Linked DNA regions of Homo sapiens: region 2 is linked to region 1. The links come from fine-mapping of genetic effects on gene expression. A gene starts in region 1. The other region holds a variant in brackets. All regions are shown on one strand. Distances are from middle to middle. Region 1 holds the start of MBIP (MAP3K12 binding inhibitory protein 1). Region 2 overlaps LOC107984003 (a long non-coding RNA gene).

Region 1 (10,425 bases):
ACAGTACATGTATAGGTTTGAAATTCATAGAGCTCAGTTCCTTTTACTAGTGAGATAGATCAACCTTCTCACTCGTACCTCACCTTCATTTCCTAAAGGAACTTTAAAATAATCTTCACCTGTGATAAACACTTTTTAATGTTAGCATTTACTTTGTGTAACCAAAATGAAAACCAGTTTGCAATATAGTCTATTATTAAGCAGAAGGAAACTCTACTGTCTTAATTACTAACTAAATCCATGAAATAAATTGAATTGTGTTCTAAAAGCTATTCATTTAAAAAATAAATAAAAGATTAGAGCAACTATAAAAATTGTGCTTAAAACCCTATGAAAATTAATTTCCAGGTAGTTACCTTGATTACAATCAATAACATTGCAAAATTCCCTGACGTTGTTTTCATTGATTTCAGCTTGCTTTCTTTCAATAAATGCAGATATTCGTCTGTCAATCTACAAACAACAAGTTTTAACAGTGTAAACATAAGATTTTTTAAAATAATACCCTCTCGCCCCCGCCAAAAAACCTTCTTACTTCTGCTTTTCCAGCCTTTATCTGAACTACTTCTGGATCAAAATGGATCTGTGTCTTTTTCACATCTCTTAAATCACTTTCTTTGTGCTTTTCTTCCTCTTGTAGGTCGCCAATGGAAAATTTGTCATTTACTTCATTTTTGTTCCCCATTTCTGTTCTTCCTATCTCTTCAACAGCAGTTGTATTCTCCTCTTTAATCGGAGACTGAAGTTTTGCTAAAAAAGGCTGAGAACAACACAATTCCATCTGCTGAGGTTCAATCTGACCAAAATTAATTACACACTTAATATATTTACATAAATTTCTGCTAAGTAAATGAAATACTTAATATCAGTTAATAAATATAAAAAGTTGGTATACCAGGACACATAGATCTGACCACATATAAGTACTCACTATTCTCTGCTATTGTAACCATTATCATTTGCTATAAATTTGTTTTTTAAAAAAGGAGAGAGGAAAAAAGAAAAGAAAAAAGAAAAGAAAACCTAAGGAAATTTAAAATTTTCTTTGAGAGAATCATTCTGTCACTCATCTTTTATTTTGTGCCAAATCAAAGCCTTCAGCCTCTGGCACCAATGCCACTTAATTAACATGTCATTCAAATGCCTCCTCAGAACACTAAGGCTTAGTATTTTTCCTCCTTAACACGAGAGCTAGTGCTCTCACTCAGCAAAGCCCTGCATTATCACTGTATCACTGGAGATTCTCCACTTGAAACTGCAGTTGGCCAATGTGAATGAGGAAGCATAGACATGAAATATATAGGTGTTAGGCTGAGTGAACACTCAGACTTTTCCTGACATGGCAAGATATCTTTTGGTCATAAAATTAAATTTTAAAAAAGAAAACGAACAAGAAAAAAAAAAGATCTATAGCTGAAAACAGGCAGAGGCCTATCACTATACTACAGGGGGAAAACCCCTGTTGTAGAATTTAAACTATATTACTCATTTACTGTTCCCCTCCCCCACTCCCCACAATGAGGTCTCATTTGAGTTCTAGAGCTCACTGCTCTGCCCTTTAAAAACAGGGTTAACTATTACTTTTAACATGAAACAGTTAAAATTTCCCACAAAGTCAATGAATGGAGGGCTGAAAATTAATGCCTATTCCATTAGTCAAAACACACTAACACTAATAACGTTCCAATTATTTTTTTCATACCTACAATTTTGCTTCCATTGTTCGCTATACTACTCTTTTGAAATCTTATAACACCTTAATCACAGTAAACTGACCAATCCAGTTTTTCCACTTATCTTTTTGACACTTCACATTTTACACTTTGATTAGAGATAAACTGCAAACTTACATCAATTATAATTGCAAAGATGTTCAATTAGAAACCAGCAAGGTCATAATACTGTTCAGTTATTAACATGAAATATTTAAAAATATAACAACACTATTATAAATACCAATTCAATATTAACTTCTAATATAAAGAATGAATTATTTCAAACTGTTAAGGAAAAGAAATGATAAAATAGTGACTGGCTACTTACTAAGATGAGACATTAATGTCATAGAAATTACTTTCTTTTTAAAAACTATGCTGAAACTGTTTAATTGCAATAGACACTCCAGGATGTGTCATGCTGGGATAATGCCCCTTCTTGAACCACTGAAAGCACTCCATGAGCCTCCAAACTCACCCAAGGCATGGAATCATTATCATAGCATGACACACACCTGCCGTGTCTTATTGCTTAATTATAACCCACCATAGATGGAACTGTATTGAATTTTCAGTGCAGGTCTAGAATTGAATAGAATTGCATTCATTCACTCATACCCACATTGGTCTTTTGGGCTATATTCCCTTAACTGTCCTGATCACTACTGAAATTAACAGATTTAGATTAAATCCGGATGTAAATAACGTTTTATTAGCAACACTATTAATATAGTGTTTAGAACTGTCAAATACTCCAACTAACTTAACCACAATCAATTTCTATTTTCAATATCGGGTTATCATTTCTAACAAGAAATTTACCTGTAAATATAAAATGTGTTGTTCAAGTGCACTAAAGAGCAATGCAGGCTGGAATGCCGAGAGGCTCTGGAGCTTGTTCCAATCGATTGTAATTTTCACCACATCATCTCTGAGGTCAAGCTTCAAAGGGGCAAACCAGCAACATCACAAAAATTACACGATTAAGCTCTACATATGGAATTGTCACAAAAATAAGATTTCTAGAGTAACGGGTCTATTTTGCTCTAAGTTATCAAGTTTTTAATAATACACTGAAATGCTCTACCCAGTTACCATTTCAAAAGGCCAAGAAAGCTACAGATTTTCATAAAAAAACAAAAACAAAATGACATGTCGTTCAAATTCTATTCTTAGGTCTGTGTAATGGGACCATTTTAGAGGTAAAACCATTCATGAAAGATGAAAAGATGAAGGCTCTTTTGATACTTCAATATATACAAACCTTTGGATGGAGTCCAATATAGGCTTGCCCTATTCAGAATCCTACTACTTCTAGCTCAGAGCCTTAAACAGAGGAAGTACAAGTGTTTTGTGAAAGTTTTAACATGCATCTTTCTCTTTAAGTATGTACACAAATACATATCAGAAATATATCATTATTCTGATGTCCTCCAAATCACATTTTTAGTTTTTTAACTTTTAACCGATTTTTAAACTAATTTAAAAGTCAAGATTATTCATACATATAAAGTGTAGGGATAAATGGCAACATGTTTATTTCAAATAAAAAACTATTATTTAGCAATGGAAGTCTGAAGCTGAAAAACAAAGACTTCTCCACCACAGTGAAATAAGTTGTCAGACTGGATGAAATGTCCAGATCTTTTGTAAATGCTAAGATGTGACAGCTCATTATATGGAAATTTCTATCAGTTGGTGATCTAATAGAATAAAATCATATCCAGAAAACTACCAAGAACCTGAATATAAGATTATTATCAAAATGAGTGAAAATTTTACAATGAGAGCGCCCATCTGCAGTCTTTTGAATGAATAAAAGTGAACCATCAAAAACTTTTCTAGGGACATGTGTTTACAGCATAGTATAAGACTATACTTCATAGTAGAATCAAGTTAACATAATTTATTCAAAATGAGTCATCTTTTCTACAAAATAAAGGTGTTACGTGAGTTCAAATACAGATTTTATGAGTCACAATTATAATAAAAAAGATGAATCACTGTACAAAGATCAAAAAGATATAAGGTTACCAATAAAAAGATAATATATTGAATAAATACTATGTGACAGAAATTTACTGCCCTTTGAAGATGAGAATGGAAGCATTTAAAAGTCCATATTAGACAAGTATAAAGAGATATGAAATTTCATGTAGGCTGCACTGGCAAAGATTAGAATATATTAAGATTGTACATTAAAGTTAATGCATTAATTTATATTACTTTAATTCCTATAAAGATTTTGTTAGACAACAACCTGTATTATGTATGGAAGTAACCCATTAATGTACTTTCATAGTCTTCAAGGAGATCTATAGTTGATTATAGAAAACTTAAGAATACAGCTTGGGGATAAAGCAGGCAAATCCTCAACCAAAGCAAAGTATCACATTTTCTAGAGAAAATAACTTATAGAAAAATAAGTCTTAATGTTTGGTTCATATTCTCATTTCAATTCAGCAGAATTACATAAGCTTCAAGTGCAATTAAGAATAATTAGTCTTTTAAGAAAACCACATAATGTCACAAATTAATTTTAAAACTGTCCTAATACATCTAACTATTCATTCAACAAATTCATTATTAGTAATATGAACTCTATGCATTTTGCCCTACAGAACTTGGAAGAGTAAACCACTCACTCGAAAATCTCTATTAGTCTGCTATTAATATAGACTATTTAAATATATATTTTCAGTAAAAACTTTACTAAATTAATACAAAAATCCAAGCTAAAAATAAATAATTGTTTAGCTTGGTAAGATGGACCATCCAGAGGCAAGCAAAAAGGTTAAAATTAGTAAATTTTGTGATCTTAAGTAAAAAATTATTTTTAACATTCAGTTTTATGTTTCCTACTGAGGAGATCTAATAATACAACGATACTTAGGGATGACACAGGATGAAGTTAGGCATGTTACAACATACATTCTAAATATCCTTTAAAGTGGTTGCAAAAGAAAATACTGATTTCTCTGGGGGCAATTTTATAAGTATGGAACTCTAATTTTCACTCTTAACACTTCTCAAAATATAGAGTATTATGAAAACAGTTTGTATTTAATTGATGAAACAATCATATTTTTGACACTTGTATAGGAGGTCCCTTCACTGTGTCATGGTAAAGTAACCAAATATTTACTGTGAACATTTTTGACAGGTGACATAAGTAAATTGTAATCACTTCTTTACTTGTACAGTACTTGAATGTTTAAAATTTTCTAATGAGTTTGAAAAATTCAGTATGCAAAATATTTCAAAAGAAATGTTTAAATCATTGCTCAGTATTTTTTAAAAATATTCCATCTTCTGTTAACAGGTGAGAATAAACTTTTTTCATCTTGACATTATAAAATAAATAAACTTAAGTTCCAACGTCGCCATAAAAAGTTCTCTAACTTTTAAACCATTTAAACGTCTTGGGTCTTAAGAATGGAATGTTAATAACAAAACACCCCAAGTCTTTAAAAAATGTTTTTGGTAAGTACTTGGCAAACAACTGAATTTAAAAGTTATATCTTTAAGCAGACTCCATTAATAACTGCGTCATTTCATAAAACCGTTTAACTTACAGTAATGTTCTTTGTAAGACACAACATACTACGATTTTTAAAAATAGTAACTTCTTAAAAGACTGATTCTCCATCTACTCAAGGCTTTAAAAATAATTTTCACAAATCAGACAAATGTTCTATTTTCATAGGAATTTACCATTATCTTTGACACAAATGCCTGCTTTGTCCACTTGCGCTAGTACCAGCCCCAAAACAAACTTTTACGGCTAGAAAATGGTCTATGTAAGATAGAAAATATTTCCTTTTAAAAGGCAGGTAAACAAGCATACTTTTAAATTGTTTCTCATTTAAAACTTGAATTTTACACCATGAAACGAAACAGTGACTTGATCGAAGAAGCCCATTTCAATTTAAAACCAATTTTACTATGACATTTCTGCAAAAGCGATTTATCAGCCAGTTAAACTAGTTAATAGTTAAATAACGACAGTTCTAACGCCAACAGCATTTTACGCTAGAAGTATTTTAAATGAATTCCTTTTACTTTTCTCCCCATTTGAAAGGATTATAGATGCGCAAAACAGCCCGAAGGAAAAAAGAAATAAACAAAACCAAGTAACTCATAAGAACAAATTACTCCCTCCCCCACCAAAAAAAGCTAATAAGCGCGCGCTTTTCTATAAATCTCAGGCCTACTGACCAACCAATTCCCATAAAGAGTAAGTTGGAGGAAAAAGGACCCTGAACGCTAAGCGCCTCCTAAACTCGCAGTGAAGCTTTTCCACATTCATTCTCTCCAAGCCTGCCTCTCTCGGAGCCGGGTTTTCACTTAGGCCAACCTCACCCACTCTTGGGGAGGACAGCTGCAAGGTAAACGACTCTGCAACCGGTACCGCCGTCCTCCTCACTCCGACCGAGGAGGCTGGGCCCGGGCTCCTTCCACACCTCGGCTTCGGGACCGCATCCCACACCTCTGCAGGCCTAGCTGCCCCCGGCCTCTGCTAGAGAAAAAGAATGGCGAGGAGGGACCGGATGGTTTCCATATTCCCAGTCCCTCAGGCCACCTCTCACCTGTCCAACCAGGGTGTGTAGGGAGCGAAAGATTTCGTAGAGCACCTCTCGGGAGAGGTTGGGTCTGCATCTTCGCTCCAGGTTCCTGTCACCGCTGCTCGGGCGATTAAGCTCCGTGGCAGCAGCCATGATATCTTCTCAGGCCGCCCCACCACCACCACCACCAAGATTTGCTCACAACCCCGCCCCCTCCCTTCCAGCTTTAGTCGCTTGGCGATGACGTAAGACACGGAGTCTGGTTTAGATCGGGCTTTGAGGCCCCACCCTCTCTATGTGAATGACAAGCACGTTACACCAATCAGTTGCAGCTGTGACATTGCGCCGAGGCTCTGAAGTGGGTAATTGCAGACCACAGCTAGGCTGGAATGCTGTGTTTGGGGTGGTCATTAGAGTCGTGGTCTCTTTAGCGTTATGAAGCCTACCTTGACTCCTAGGTGTTCATTGTGAATCTTGGTAAGAGGAGACATAGTTAAATTTTGTAGTTTGAGTCCAAAAAGTAAAAGTTGACATTTTAACATGGCGGTGTGGAGTGGGTCTGGAGGAAGCTTGCTGGTCAGGGATGGAGTGGTGCCCACACGTGTTTCTAAACATTGGAAAACTCACACGGAATTATCATGATTGGATAGAACATTTTCATCTCTTCAAGTTTGTTGTTGTTGTTTTGGAGACAGAGTCTCACTCTGTCGCCCAGACTGGAGTGCAGTGGCACTACCTCGGCTCACTGCAACCTCCGCCTCCCAGGTTCAAGCGGTTCTCCTGCCTCAGCCTCCTGAGTAACTGGGACTACAGTTGATATTCTCTGTTTTAACTGTAGAGACGCTTAACCCTAAAATTGTTTCAAAGAAATGAAACACTGTCAATATAATTCCAACAGGAATTTAACCTGGATAAATAATATCATGCAACCACAATCTTTGAAATTAGGACATAAAACCGAATTCAAATTTTACAAAGTATTATTTATCATAATAGCTTTATTATAACGATGTTTGTGGGGTTTTGTAATCTTTTAGTCAGACTCCGATATTTTTAAAAAGTGTTATCCAATTAAAGTATTACAATAATTTTTAGTGTTAAGCTTTATTCAAAAACACTTTAAGAAATCAACATCAGCTTAGAGATAAGGAAGGTGGGATTTAAAACTCGTAATTCTGTTAATAGTCTAATGCATTTACAGTAGAGAAAGCAAAGGTGGAAACTTGCACAATGTGTATTCTTTAGTTTTAGGGTAGACTAAATTAAAGGGAAGGACTAATGCATCAAGGAACTAAGATAAGGACGATGGGGATAAAAACTCCTTTGACCTGTCCCTAGGGAGTCTCTTAATTAGGCTTTCATTTCCAAAGACAAATGGGATCACCAGGCTTGACAGAATCTTGGGAAATCTTTTCTGTTCCCTTGTTGGCAGCAAGATATACAACTGACATTCCAGCCTATTTCTACAGGCAGAAAAATACTTCACAATGTCCAGTCTCAAATTGAGCAACCTTCTTATTCAAGCATGGTAATGGGGTAACTGTAAGTTTTTGTTTTGTACCAAATTAGCAATCAGTTTCAGATCATTTGTTTTCATTGAGGTGTTTCATATTTTTTCAAATATGGAGAACACTGATATGCAACACATTTGGGAATATGCTTTGTATATTTAAAAAATGTTGTCTTTAACAAGGTGCTGCTATTCCTTTCTTTGCCATCATTGATTTTGAATTTTCAAGTTTTACTTGTTCTTTTGAGCCTCTAATACAGAATTAACTGATGGCCATTTGATCTGTGTATTGCTTCTCCATGTAATTCTGTGATTTGATATCCAGACCTGCACTTGTATCTTAGTATTCTTTACTTAGGTACAGGTTGAGCATTCCTAATCTGAAAATTCAAAATCCAAAATGATCCAAAATTTGAAACTTTTTGAGTGCCAGTACCACAAGTGGAAAATTTCACACCTGATCCGACATAACAGGTCACAGTTAAAATGTAGTCAAAACTTTGTTTCATGCACAGAATTATTTAAAACATTATATAAAATTACCTTCAAGTTATGTGTATAAAGTATACATGAAACATAAATGAATTTTGTGTTTAGATTTGGGTCCCATCCCCAAGATAGCTTATTATATATATGCAAATATTCCAAAATCTAAAAAAAATCCGAAATCTGAGACACTTCTGGTCCCAAGTAGTTCAGATAAGGGATACTCAACCAGTAGTACTTAAAATTTGTTAACTCTTTTGTGCATTCTTTCTTCTTTCTAAGGACCTTTCTTACTCTTCTTGATGCCTATTACCTTCATTTTGGAAATTTTTCTCATTTTCTTATTTTATAATAGAAAATTCTATTTTAAATAGAAGAGTTTGTAGCCTGAAAAGATTTGGATTCCTTTGGGCCAACTCAAAATAGAAATTTGTAGATATTGTATGTGTGTATGTATGTATAACAAAAGTATAATATGCGCTATGAAATTTAGAAAGGGAATAAAGGGAATAATTTGCTCTTTATGGAAAACTAATTACAGTTTATAAAGTGGGTTGCTGAAAAATCTGCTGCCTGGCAGAAATGATTCAAAGTGTTGGTGTTCGCGTTAGCAACAGAGTTAGAAATACTGTCCAGCAGGCTTATGCCAAGAATCAATTGGGAGGATAGAGACTATAAATGAAATCTAGGCTATTTACCTTATCAACAAAAATGTCTTTTATGGTGAGCTTTAATGGCATAACTCTATTGAATAACCCAGTTCCCAGCAAAATACCTGAGGTATTAGAAGGGCTCAACTGATGTTTGTTGCATATATGATAATACAGATTTTATTTCAATGCAGAAAAAGTAAAATAAATGGTATTTGTCGTCCCTGTCTCCCCATCACCTGCTGCATAAGTCCAAGTTCTTTAGAATGACATGAAGGCTCTTATGATGTGGCCTTTGCCTAAATTTCCAGCCTCATTTTCTGCCACAAACCATCTGGTGCTTAGTGCTTCTGAAACTGCTTTTATGTCTTCAACACTTTACTATTTCTTGCCTCCATGCTTTGATTTTTACCCAGTGCCTGTTGTCTGCTTGAGAAACTCCTTTTCCATTTTCAAACTCCAGTTAGAAAATCTTTGGGGAATCCCCCCTCATAAAGAGCTTATTTTCTCCTCTGCTAAACTACTCCTACAACTTGTATATACTTCTATTATTGTAGTTATCACAGTGATACTTGAATTTATTTGACTATATCTGTCTCCTTATTGAACTATAAGCATTTATATGTTGGTGTACATAAGGCTTAGCATAGTTTCTGGCACAGAGTTAATTGCTCAGTATATGCCTGTTGAGCTGAATTTATTTGCCTTCATAAGTGAACAGATTTATAAAATGGAAAAAAGTAAACAAGTGCCTATTGTTGAAGGAAAATTGTAACATATAGACTGCTATAAACAATTTATTTTAAATAACGAAACAAGTCTGTTTATTCTCTTTTGTGGCAGCAAATTCAAAGTGTTCTAAGTTTTCTTAAGGGAGTAAATATAGCTAGCCTTCATAACCATTCTCAATAATTTTACACATACAAATTAATTGTACCTACTATATACCAGGCACTCTAATTGACATTGAGCTACAAAGATGAATCAGACAAGGACTGTTCCTCAAAGAGCTCCCGTTCTAGTGGGATAGGTAGATATATAAACAAACAACTTCATATAATGTGACAATGGCCATATTAGAGGTATGTATAAAGTAATGCAGCCAATTAGTTCCTTTGGGGAGGGGGTTGGGTCCAGAATCAGGAAAAGCTATAAACACTTAAAGTAAAATCTGAATTGATATTGATAAAAATATGAATTTGATATCAAAATATGAATTGATAAATAAGAATTCTCAAGGAATTTATAGAAAACATGAACAGCAACTTGAACATGCTTAATATGTTTAGGGAGGATACATTAAATAGAGAAGTATGGCTAAGCAAGCATTTCCTAAAGTGTATTTTATGGAATGCTAGTCTATAATGTGCTAATTTTAGCAAAACAGTTCATGATCAAGTAAATTGGGATAATAATTGGCAAATTGTATTGCCATTTCATGCAATGGCTCACAACATTACTTCCTATTAGCAAGGAGTTTAGCAGTGCAGTCAAGCCCA
Region 2 (10,425 bases), 30 kb before region 1:
TTTCATTTGCCGTATTTGTGTGTGTGTGTGTATGTGTGTGCGTGTGTGTGTTTTACCAGCACCTGCACACATCTTGATTTCTTAATCACTCAGGGTTGTTGCTTACCATTGTTATGTTTTCAAAGCTCTTCATGCATCAGGATTAATCCAGAGGACTTAAGCTTGGCACTGGGGGAGTTAAAACACTTGAAGAGTAGTGTAAATTCTTAATTAATACAGAAAGAAGAATCACTTATAATTTATTAAAAATATCCAATGCTGATCCAAATAATATTTTGGAGTAAATGGGTATGTAGTGAACAGTCTTCCATGGTTCCTCATTCACTGATTCTTCCTGCTGGTGTGAGGGCTGTTCAAAATAGCACTTCACTTTTTGGTTTATTTATTAAGATCCTGCACTCAACTATAAAAAATTAGCCTCCTAGAGGTGAATCACTTCCTACACTGCAAAGGAGAAATCTGCTCCTATATAGCAAAGAAGAAAACCCTGCATACATTCCTGAAACAGACAATAAAGAAAAGATCAAATACGTTTATTGCACAGCCCATTCCAAGTGTGAAATGGAGCAGATGAATGTTTAAGTAATGTGGACTGAGTGTCTGAAAGAGTGATCTTGTTACTACCCATTAGACAAGGGTAATGTCCAAGATGGGGCATGATGGGTTTTTTGGTGAACTTTTAAACTCAAAGCTCTTTAATAATTGAAAAATGGAATAGCTTGAAGAAACGTGTCTTCCCTTATGTGGAATATTATGAAAGCTAATAGCATAACTGCACTGGAAGGGACACTGAGGGAGCTTGAGTCAAGCCCTGCGTCAGGTATGCTAAAATTGCCCTGCTGTGAGTCAAAGTCTCTACTTTAATTATCTGCAAAATGCTCTGGCAGAGGGAATGTTTCTCTCCCCTCCTTCTGTTCTCATCTGGTGTACTGGCTGCTGGCTAGTTTATTAAATCAACATTTTCAAAGACTTCCCCCTTCCATCTCTAGGTAGCTAATGCCAGTTAGATTTTAAGTCTCTCAGCAAAAATTTATTCTTCAATAAACACTGCCTCTGGGACAAAGTTGTACACAAGCCTTAGTGGCCAGGAAGGAGCTAAGAGTATTGGTATGTTTTTGTCTTGCCTCTCTCTTCCTTCTCTTCCACCTTTTTCTTTGGTACCTTGCTAATAATAAGTAGAGAGGCATAAACATCCCGTCATACTTGGAAGACAAAAGCTCACACACAGCACATAGCATATCCCATGGGAAGGGCATATATTACCTTCATCACCACATTGCGCAACTAAGCAATTTTTTTGCCTGTTCAGATACAACTAGTGAAAAACATGTCAAATAAGCAGTAGTTTGGGGACTGACACCTAATCCCTACTTCTCATAACACCTCAACAATTATATAAGAAACATCGATTGTACACTCTATGTACACAACACTCTGTGGTATGTTGGATATGCAGCCTCTGTCCTCTTTACTTAAATAGATTTACTTGCTTCCTGCCTAGCTGGCCTTGTTGAGGCTGATAACCCTGGGCCAGCGCCTTCCCCACCACACTCTCCCCATCTCAGCTCAGCAGTTCAGTGCTCCATTCCCTGGAGTTTTTGGTAGGGGAGTACCCAAAATGAATGAAGTGAGTGGGGTAAAGACTCAACCACACATATTAATTCAAGATCCCTACTGGGCAGGAGGGAGGCTGCTTTAAAGGAGACAGTTCCCATGCTCTTCACATCTCAATATACGGGTGACCATTGTCTGCCCAACTAACCCTGGATTAGCCTGTGTCTTAGAAAGGGCATGCAGTCAGGGTGATGGTATCTCCCTCCAAAGAGTTTGGGGGCATAAACCTGAGTGAAGGTTTCTTTTGGGGACGGGATACCTTCTGTTCCCTATAGCAAGGAGTGTTATCCTGCCAGGCAGCCATATCTACTAAAGGCAGCTGGCTTTCAGAGGATATGATGCTGATCAAGCCTCACGCGCAAATGTCAAATACCAGGGCATGTGAGAGGGGTTGTGTAAAGTAAGTTAGTAAGTAGGCTTCTTTTCTGTAGCAGTTCATCTTTAATATTAGTACCTCTGCAAGAAGACCATCTCTTGAATTCTGCAGTTCAATGGCAATTCTGTTACGGTTGTACTTGTAATGTGCTGAAAAATTCAAAGTTGATCATCTCTATATCTCTTCATTCAAGAAGCCAGTTGCCTTTTTGCTCTTTTCAAGAGGGTAATTCCTCATGCTTTTATTTTGCCGATTAATTTTCCCCTTTGGCCTATACATTTTCCCCTTTATTCTGTTTTTACTCAAGGTTATCTCAGCCTTTCTCCTACTCATCTGCTGCCTAACTTAGCTGTTCTGTATATGTATCTGCCATTTGTTACAGAGGCAAGAACTCGGGCTTTGGAGAGGATGAGGGCAGGCTACCCAGCCCTGTCTCTTACAGAGGACTTCTCACCTTTCTGAGTCTCAAATTCCTGTCTGCAAATAGAGATAATAATACAGTAAGCTCTTTGCTTATTGTAAGGATTAAATGAGATAATGCATGAGAAGTCCTCATACACTACTCAAAATTGTTAGTTCCTGCCAGTTCTTTCTTCCTTCTTCTCCATTTTTGCCTCTTATCTATTAGTAAAAATTCACAGAATTGAATAAAATTGCAGATGTTTGCTATACAGATAATTACCTTAAAAACTATATTTAAACAGGCCATAATAAGTTATTTAAAAATGGGTTTGTGGCTTCTTCAATGCCCTTTTCTGAAATTTTTGCTTTGAGGCCTAGAGGTTAAGACCCTCTTTACAAAAATAACTTATTAACCAAATGTAATGTACCCGAGCATAGTGATCCATTCTGCACACTGTAGCCAGAAGCCAGAGTGATTTTTCTAACGTGCCACTCTGATCGGGCCATCCACCTGCTCTTCCCACCGGCTCCTTAAGCCAGTGATTCAGTGATTTGCAAGGCTTTTCAGATCTGGACCGTTCTTCACTCTCAAGGGTCCCTCTCACACTCTTCCCACCCCATCGTATGACACAGTGCTTCATGCATGACGGCTAAACAATGACAATAAGTTCAATGAATAAATGAAGACAAGGTGGTTACATTTTCTATAGCTTTGACTGAATGACAGAGTTCAACAGATGGCCTTTCTGCTGCAGAAAAAAGTTTATTAATTTTAAATATAATAATTACCTGTGTTTGGCTGGTATGAAAGAAGAGACATAATTGGGCCATTCAATCAAAATGTTTTAGATTTTTTTAAGGCAACTGTTATTTCCCCCCATAGGAATTCTCTCTTTTGTCAACTATGTGTATGGTATGTTTTTTGGAAGACATACTTCTTTACTGCAGTTCATGGCACATGGCTAGCTTTGAATGGGAATCAATTATATTAACCTATGTGTCTACGTATTAGATGTGTACCAATATTAAGAGTGGAAAGATAGAAACACCTATGTTTTCCCATGTGTTTTCATAAAAAAACTTCCAACTCCAACACAGTGGGAAAAAATATGCTGAAAAATAAAATTATTTAACCACAAATTAAATCTTGCCTTTCTGCTGGAACTGGTTACTTGGAGATGATTTTCCAGAAGAGGGAGACAGACAATACACATGATATTTAAGCAAATTATGTAGTTTGTTGGAAGAAGCTGAGTGTTACAAGGAAAAAAATATATAGAGCAGGTGAGAGGAGTCTGGAGTTGGGGTGAAGGGGAGGTGGGATGTGCCTGGATCAGGGTAGAAACCATTGTAAGGCTGCCAGATGGAGAAAAAAAGTCAAAAACAACAATAGGACACCCAGTTAAATGTGAATTTCAGATATACAGCCAATACTTTATATGTGTGTCCCATGCTAAATTTGGGGGATTTGGGGCATGTGCTAAGATGCTATTCATTGCTTATCTGAAATTCACATTTAATGGGTGCCCAGTATTTTGTCTGGCAATCCTATCCCATTGAAAGTAAGATTTCAGCTAAGATATGAGGGGATATGGAACAGTAACCCAGGAGAGCCCATCCAGGCAGTGAGAAGGCCAGTGTGGTGAGGCTCAGGAGTCAAAGGGGGCTTGTCAGACGAGGAAGGGGGGTGGTGCAGGCCAGGCAGATCATGTAGGGCCCTGTAGGCCTTTGGAAGGACTTTGTTTTTTACTCTTGAGTGAACTGAGAATCCATTGTAGGGTTTTCAGCAAAGAAGTGACGTGAACTGACTTCCGATTGTGAAGGATCATTCTGGCTGTTGTGTGAAAAATAGAGAGCCGAATGGCAAGGTCAGCAGGGGGACCACAAGGGGCTTTTGCAGTGATCCAAGGGATTAGTATGATGGCGGCTCAAGCTGGCATGGTAGCAGTGAAGCGATGAGAGAGGGTTAGATTTTGAATATATATTGAATGTAGAGACCACGGCATTTTCTGACAAAATGTATGATAGGAGTTAAAGACGGCCTCAAGGTTTTTTGACCCAAGGCCCTGGAAAGAAGGGAGTTGCCATGCACTGAGATGGGAAAGACGTGACTGGAGCAGGTCAGAGGAAAAGATCAGGAGTTCAGTCTTCAAAGTGGAGAGCTGACATGACTCCAGACATCCAAGGGGGAGATTTTGAGTGGGCCACTGGATACTGGAGTCCGGTCCAAGCAGGAGATGTAAATTTTATGTTCTCTATAATCTCCACTTAAATCAGCGTTCCCAAAGGGAAAAGACATGTCACAATTCTCTTAAGGAAATGTTTGCTCCTCCCTTCTAGCTTTAGTTAAAAAATTATCTCTTTCTTTGAAGCTGCTGCTTTGTTTAGCTTCCTGTCAACCATCCATCACTGTTGAAAGATAGGGGCTGTTTGATGCTTCATGACATTTCTTTGCTTTTCTGCTCCTTGAAACCCAGGAAAGTGGGAGAGTTGTTTTTCCTATGCTAGACTCGTCTAGTGAGATTTTTCTCAAATTTTCCTTTTCCAGCCCAATTTTAGGTACTCTTGTTCTTTTTTACTTTGACTTTTGGCTCTTTCTGAATATTTTCAGAACTTTTAAAGTAGGATTTAAAGTCACACAAGGGTCCAGGCTGAGACTTGCTGAATTCTGAGTTAATATGATATATATATCCAATAGGGAAAAGGGATAGGACCATTTGGAAAAAGAACATTTGAACCTAAAAAATCTAAGGTCCCTAAATTTCAGGGACCTAATAGCTGGGGCGAGATTGGAGAAGATAAAATCTGAAAGAAGATTTTATATCTGAATTTATTCAGAAGTGAGATTCTGATTATTTTTAGTTTTTAAAATAGCCTTGCATAGCATCAAATAATTTTAAATTACACAAGATCTTGCCAAATTGCTCCAAAAACATTGGATTAGGAATAAAGTAATTCAGTTTTAATCCTGATCTTTTAACTACTTAGCCATGAAACTTGGGTAATCTTTTAACTCTTGACATGTCCCAGTTCTCACATCTAAAAGATGAGGAATCAGCACTGTTATATACTCCTTCCCGGAGTAAGAATGAGATGTAACTCAGATTACTGTATGAGAAAGCACTCTGAAAACATAAAATATGCTACAAATTCAGTGGATTATTGCTGTATTGTCAGCAGTATCATTTTATCCAAGAAGAATTTCTTCTACTCTAATAATTAACATAAAACATAAAATTCAACTCATTGGCAAAATATAAAACAGTCAGAAACATACTTTTATTTCTTGAGGGAGAAGAGTATTCTTTCGGTAA[C/T]GGTGTTTCCTTGATGAAATGAATAAGAGTTTAACTATTGAGTGATGCCTAATTTCTGTTATATTTCCCATTTGAAGTTTCAGATTTGTAATTATTGCTGAGCGCAAGAAAACATCAGGAAGATTTGTGGTTTATGGAAGAATAGGCACCTTCCAACGTTAATCTTATCTCCCTATTGCAGGTAACTAGTATCTTCAGCTGGAAATATCAAATGCAAATCTCTTAATTTGTTTAACACAGAGATTTTAATTTCCCATTCATATCAGTGTCTGTATACTCCTGAGTTTTACACAATGCTTGTCCTCCTTTAGTTGGCTTGTACAGTATTGTTTTTTCCAGTTATAAATAGAGAACATTGGGCATGTGGGTTATCATTTTTAATTGAGCTAAATTAAGCTAATCATAAAAATTCTTCTTGCCAGTGATTAGGAAGAAACATGTGATACAATTCTGGCCAATGAGACATAAGAGGTCTATTTCTTCTGTTGTCCTATATTGTTTTATCTGGATATGGTACCCGGAAGTGTGGCAGCCATCTTGCCACCATGAAATGGCCTAGAGGCTTCAGATCAGAAACATGAGAACTTAGGTCCTCAGGGACAATGTTACAGAGCTTGTGAATTAACCAACTTGGACTTCTCTTTACATATAGTAATAAGTCCTCCCCTAGTTTAAGCCAGTTGAATAGAAGTTTTCTGTAATTTGCACACAAAAGCTGCATAATGAATACAGGTTAAACATCACAAATCCCAAAATCAGAAATCTGAAATGTTCCAAAGTCTGAAATTGACCGTCAACATGGCACCTTAAGTAGAAAATTCCACGTCTGACCTCATGTGAGGAATCTCAGTCAAAATGCAAACTTCATTTTGTGTACAAAGTTATTTAAAATATTGTACAAAATTACCTTCAGGCTATGTGTATAAGGGGTATATGAAACAGAAATGAATTTCATGTTTAGACTTGGGTCCCATCCCCAAGATATCTTACTATGTATATGCAGATATTCCAAAATCTGAAAAATTCTGAAATAGAAAAGTCTTCTGGTTCCAAGCATTTCAGATACGGGATACTCAAACTGTACACAAACCCTAATAATGTTTACCTCTCCTGCTTATTTTCATTCATGTCTCCTCTTGATCATGTTAATTATGCTTCTTGGGTGTTTCCGGAACCCCCTAATTTTCTTGAAAAGAAGCAACTGGGGTTGTTGTCAGTGCTATGGGGAAGAACACACACTAATTAAAGCTTAGGAGGGCAGAAATTCCATCAGTGTATTCCCAGCCCCAGCACAGTCCTTGTTATTCAATATATGTTGAATGAATAAATAGACTTTCTATAATTCCTTTTTTTAATCACAATAACACATTGGTTTGATAGTCTCAGCCAAGAGACGAAAGTTAACAGAATGAATGCTCTTTTAATTCCCTTGTTTTGGATTTTACCTTAGACAGGTAAATAAAGGTCAGAGGCCATGACCTTTCAAGCATCAGTCATATTTTTTCTCTAGATTTGTTAATTGGCATGAGAGTTCATCTACCCCTTGTCTTTCTATTGAGACAGAAAAATGAGATCAGGATTCTGAGAGCAGGAGAAAAAAAAAAGGCAGTGAATAGCTGCTATTTAATAGGCTGCCACATGAAGGCTGGAGTCCTTTAGCAATGCAGTGAATTTCAAAGCATAATTCCCAGGCTATTAAAGCCTAGATGTTTAAATTAACTGAGATGATATAGGAAAGAAACAGAATTGCCATAGTTAAAAATCGAATATACACTTTATGGTTGGTTATACTTTCCTATCTACTGCTAGATATTTGTATGGTTTTATCAGTAATACATAAATAACTTGTTAATTTTCATCCCTCTTTTAAAATTACTTTCTAGTAAATCTTTTAGCTAGCTTGTTTTCCATAGTTGGAAGCTATATGCTGGGATAGTTACTCACTCCAGAGGCTACCACATACAGGTCAGGATCCTGTACAAGAAATACAAGAAGTAGAAACAACTTGGGTATCTCTTATTTGGGAAATGAATAAATAAACTCTGGTTTATTCATACATTTGAGATATTTAAATAGCAATTAAAATTGGTAAAGTAGAGCTACATCAATCAGTATGGTTAAAACCCAAAACCAATGTTTAGTGAAATGTAGCAAGTTTCAAATATGTAATTAACAGAATGTGTTAAAAACAAAACAATACTAAAAATGCCTGAGAATGATGCATATGAACTTCAGGATTGTGATTCTCACTGGAGAGAGAGAGAAAGAGAGAGAGAGAGAGAAAGGGATAGATTTTATCTATGTCTGCACTTGGCCTGGTTCTTTAAAAATAAAAACTTGAAGCAAATATTAACATTTATTAAGTCTAGGTGGCAGGACACAGTTGTTTGATATATGATTTTGTGTACTTTTCTGTATGTTTGAAAAGTTTATAGTTTTTTAATGGACCCCTAATTTCACAATTCTAGAATGGCAAAAAAAATTCTATTAACTTGATAATCTAAAATTATATAAATATTTCAAACTTTTAATTTTAAGATAACTTGGAAGAAAATTCTATTTCTTAGTGATTTAAAGCAGTGTAAGACAAAGACCATCCTACAAAGGCCATTTAAAGACAAGAAAATAGTACTTGCAATAAATTGGATTTCTCAGACAGTGCTGTGGTTACCAAAAACTGCAAGTCACAAGAATAAGAACATTTGAAGCATTTTGTCATGTAAGGATGGGTTATTTTTGAAAGTGTCCCTACTTAAAAGGACTATTTTTTTAGAGCAGTTTTAGGTTCACAGCAAAACTGAGAAGGTACAGAGATTTCCCATATACGCCCTTCCCCCACACAGGCATGGACTCCCCCGTTATCAACATCCCTCATCAGAGTGGTACATGTGTTATAATTGATGGACTTATACTGACATGTCATTTTCACACAAAGTTCACACTTCACATTGATCCACTCTTGGTGTTGTACATTCTATGGGTCTAAGCAAATGTATAATGGCATGCATCTATTATGATAGTATCAGGGAGTATTTTCACTGCCCCTAAAATTTTCTGTGCTCTGCCTATTCATCTCCACCCCTCAACTTCCCTCACTCAACCCTTCGTAACTATTGACCTTTTTGCAGTCTTCATAGTTTTGCCTTTTTCAGACTATGGTATAGCTGGAATCATTTAACATGTAACCTTTTCAGCTTGGTTTCTGTCATTTAGTAATATGCATTCAAATTTCTTCCATGGCTCTTCATTGTTTGATATTACATATATAAATTTTTTTTTGAGACAGAATCTCACTCTGTTGCCCAGGCTGGAGTGTAGTGGTGTGATCTTGGCTCACTGCAGCCTCAAACTCCTGGGCTTAAGCAATCCTCCTGCCTCAGCCTCCCAAATAGCTGGGACTACACGCTTGAGCCACCATGGTTGGCTCAAAGTTTCGAGAGGTATTGCATTTCAGCAATGCAAGTACAAGAAGAAATGGAAGTAATAAGGAACTGGGACCCAAAAGAAACATATCTGAGACATGGAATAATTATTTACAAGGTGGATATCCTCTAGGTTCATTCATGGCACATATTGAGCAGTTACTTACATTCAACCAACGTTGCCCATTTTTACCTTCAACACTAAGAAAATATAAAATAAAAATTGTGCTTACTGTGTTTAAATTCTTACTAAAATTTCTAGTAAAGTTTATTTTTTAAACTATTTCCTTATAATTCAGTAAATTATTCATAAAATGACTTAAAATATATTTTCTTTATTTTTTTGAGACAGAGTTTCACTCTTGTTGTCCAGGCTGGAGTGCAGTGGCATGATCTTGGCTCACTGCAACCTCTGCCTTTCAGTTTCAAGTGCTTCTCCTGCCTCAGCCTCCCGAGTAGCTGGGATTACAGGCGCCTGCCACCAAGCCCGGCTAATTTTTTGTATTTTTAGTAGAGACGAGGTTTCATCATGTTGGTCAGGCTGGTCTCAAACTCCTGACCTCATGATCCGGCCACCTCGGCCTCCCAAAGTGCTGGCATTACAGGTGTGAGCCACTGCGCATGGCCTTAAAATGTATATTTTTTAAAGTTTTAAGATTCATTGGAACTAGATGGTAAATGGTGATGACTATTTTTCCTGGCATGAGAGTTAAGATATAATTTTTAAATCTGAAGATTTTAGTAAAGTCCAAATGCCTAACATTAAATTTTTAAAAGAGTATCAAATTTTTTAAAAAAATCTATCATATATTTAGGCAACATAAAATCACTTTCAAAGGATTATTTTTTAAAAGTAGCTCCAAAAAAATTTGAATACATGTGAGATTTCTTTCCCCGCTCCCCCTGACACTTCCTTCAGGAAACCTTGGCCACAAAGAATGTATAAAAGTGTTAGAAAATGTGGGGATTGTGAAATGTTCACATGCTTCTGCTTTTTAAAAAAGTAAACATGCAAGGCTGGCAAACTGCTTTCCCTGTGTAAAAAGTAGGGACAGTGATTCAGTGCTCAGAAGAAATGAGCTATCAGGCTGGGTGCAATGGCTCATGCCTGTAACCCCAGCAGTTTGGGAGGCTGAGGCTGGTGGATCACCTGAGGTTGGGAGTTTGAGACCAGCCTGGCTAACATGGTGAAACCTCATCGCTACTAAAAATACAGAAATTAGCCTGGATGACAGAATGAGACCCCATCTCTAAAAAAAAAAAAAAAAAAAAAAAAATTAAAAATAAAGTCTAAAGC

The links. PIP is the estimated chance that this variant, and not a neighbour inherited with it, causes the effect.
Region 2: its variant is fine-mapped to the expression of MBIP in whole blood (TOPMed, PIP above 0.99).

What each region holds. Positions count from the first base shown.
Region 1 is chr14:36,314,156-36,324,580 of GRCh38, forward strand. MBIP (MAP3K12 binding inhibitory protein 1) reads right to left here and starts at 6,482. Exons shown (of 9, transcript NM_016586.3): 1 at 6,305-6,482; 2 at 2,538-2,657; 3 at 536-760; 4 at 357-453. The coding sequence starts at 6,433. RefSeq lists enhancers at 6,171-6,430, 6,831-6,880.
Region 2 is chr14:36,283,900-36,294,324 of GRCh38, forward strand. It overlaps LOC107984003 (a long non-coding RNA gene), which reads left to right. Exons shown (of 3, transcript XR_429356.5): 3 at 5,784-5,852. Among named protein-coding and RNA genes, the nearest start is that of MBIP, 32 kb to the right of the region's middle. The variant C/T (reference allele first, on the strand shown) is at 5,707.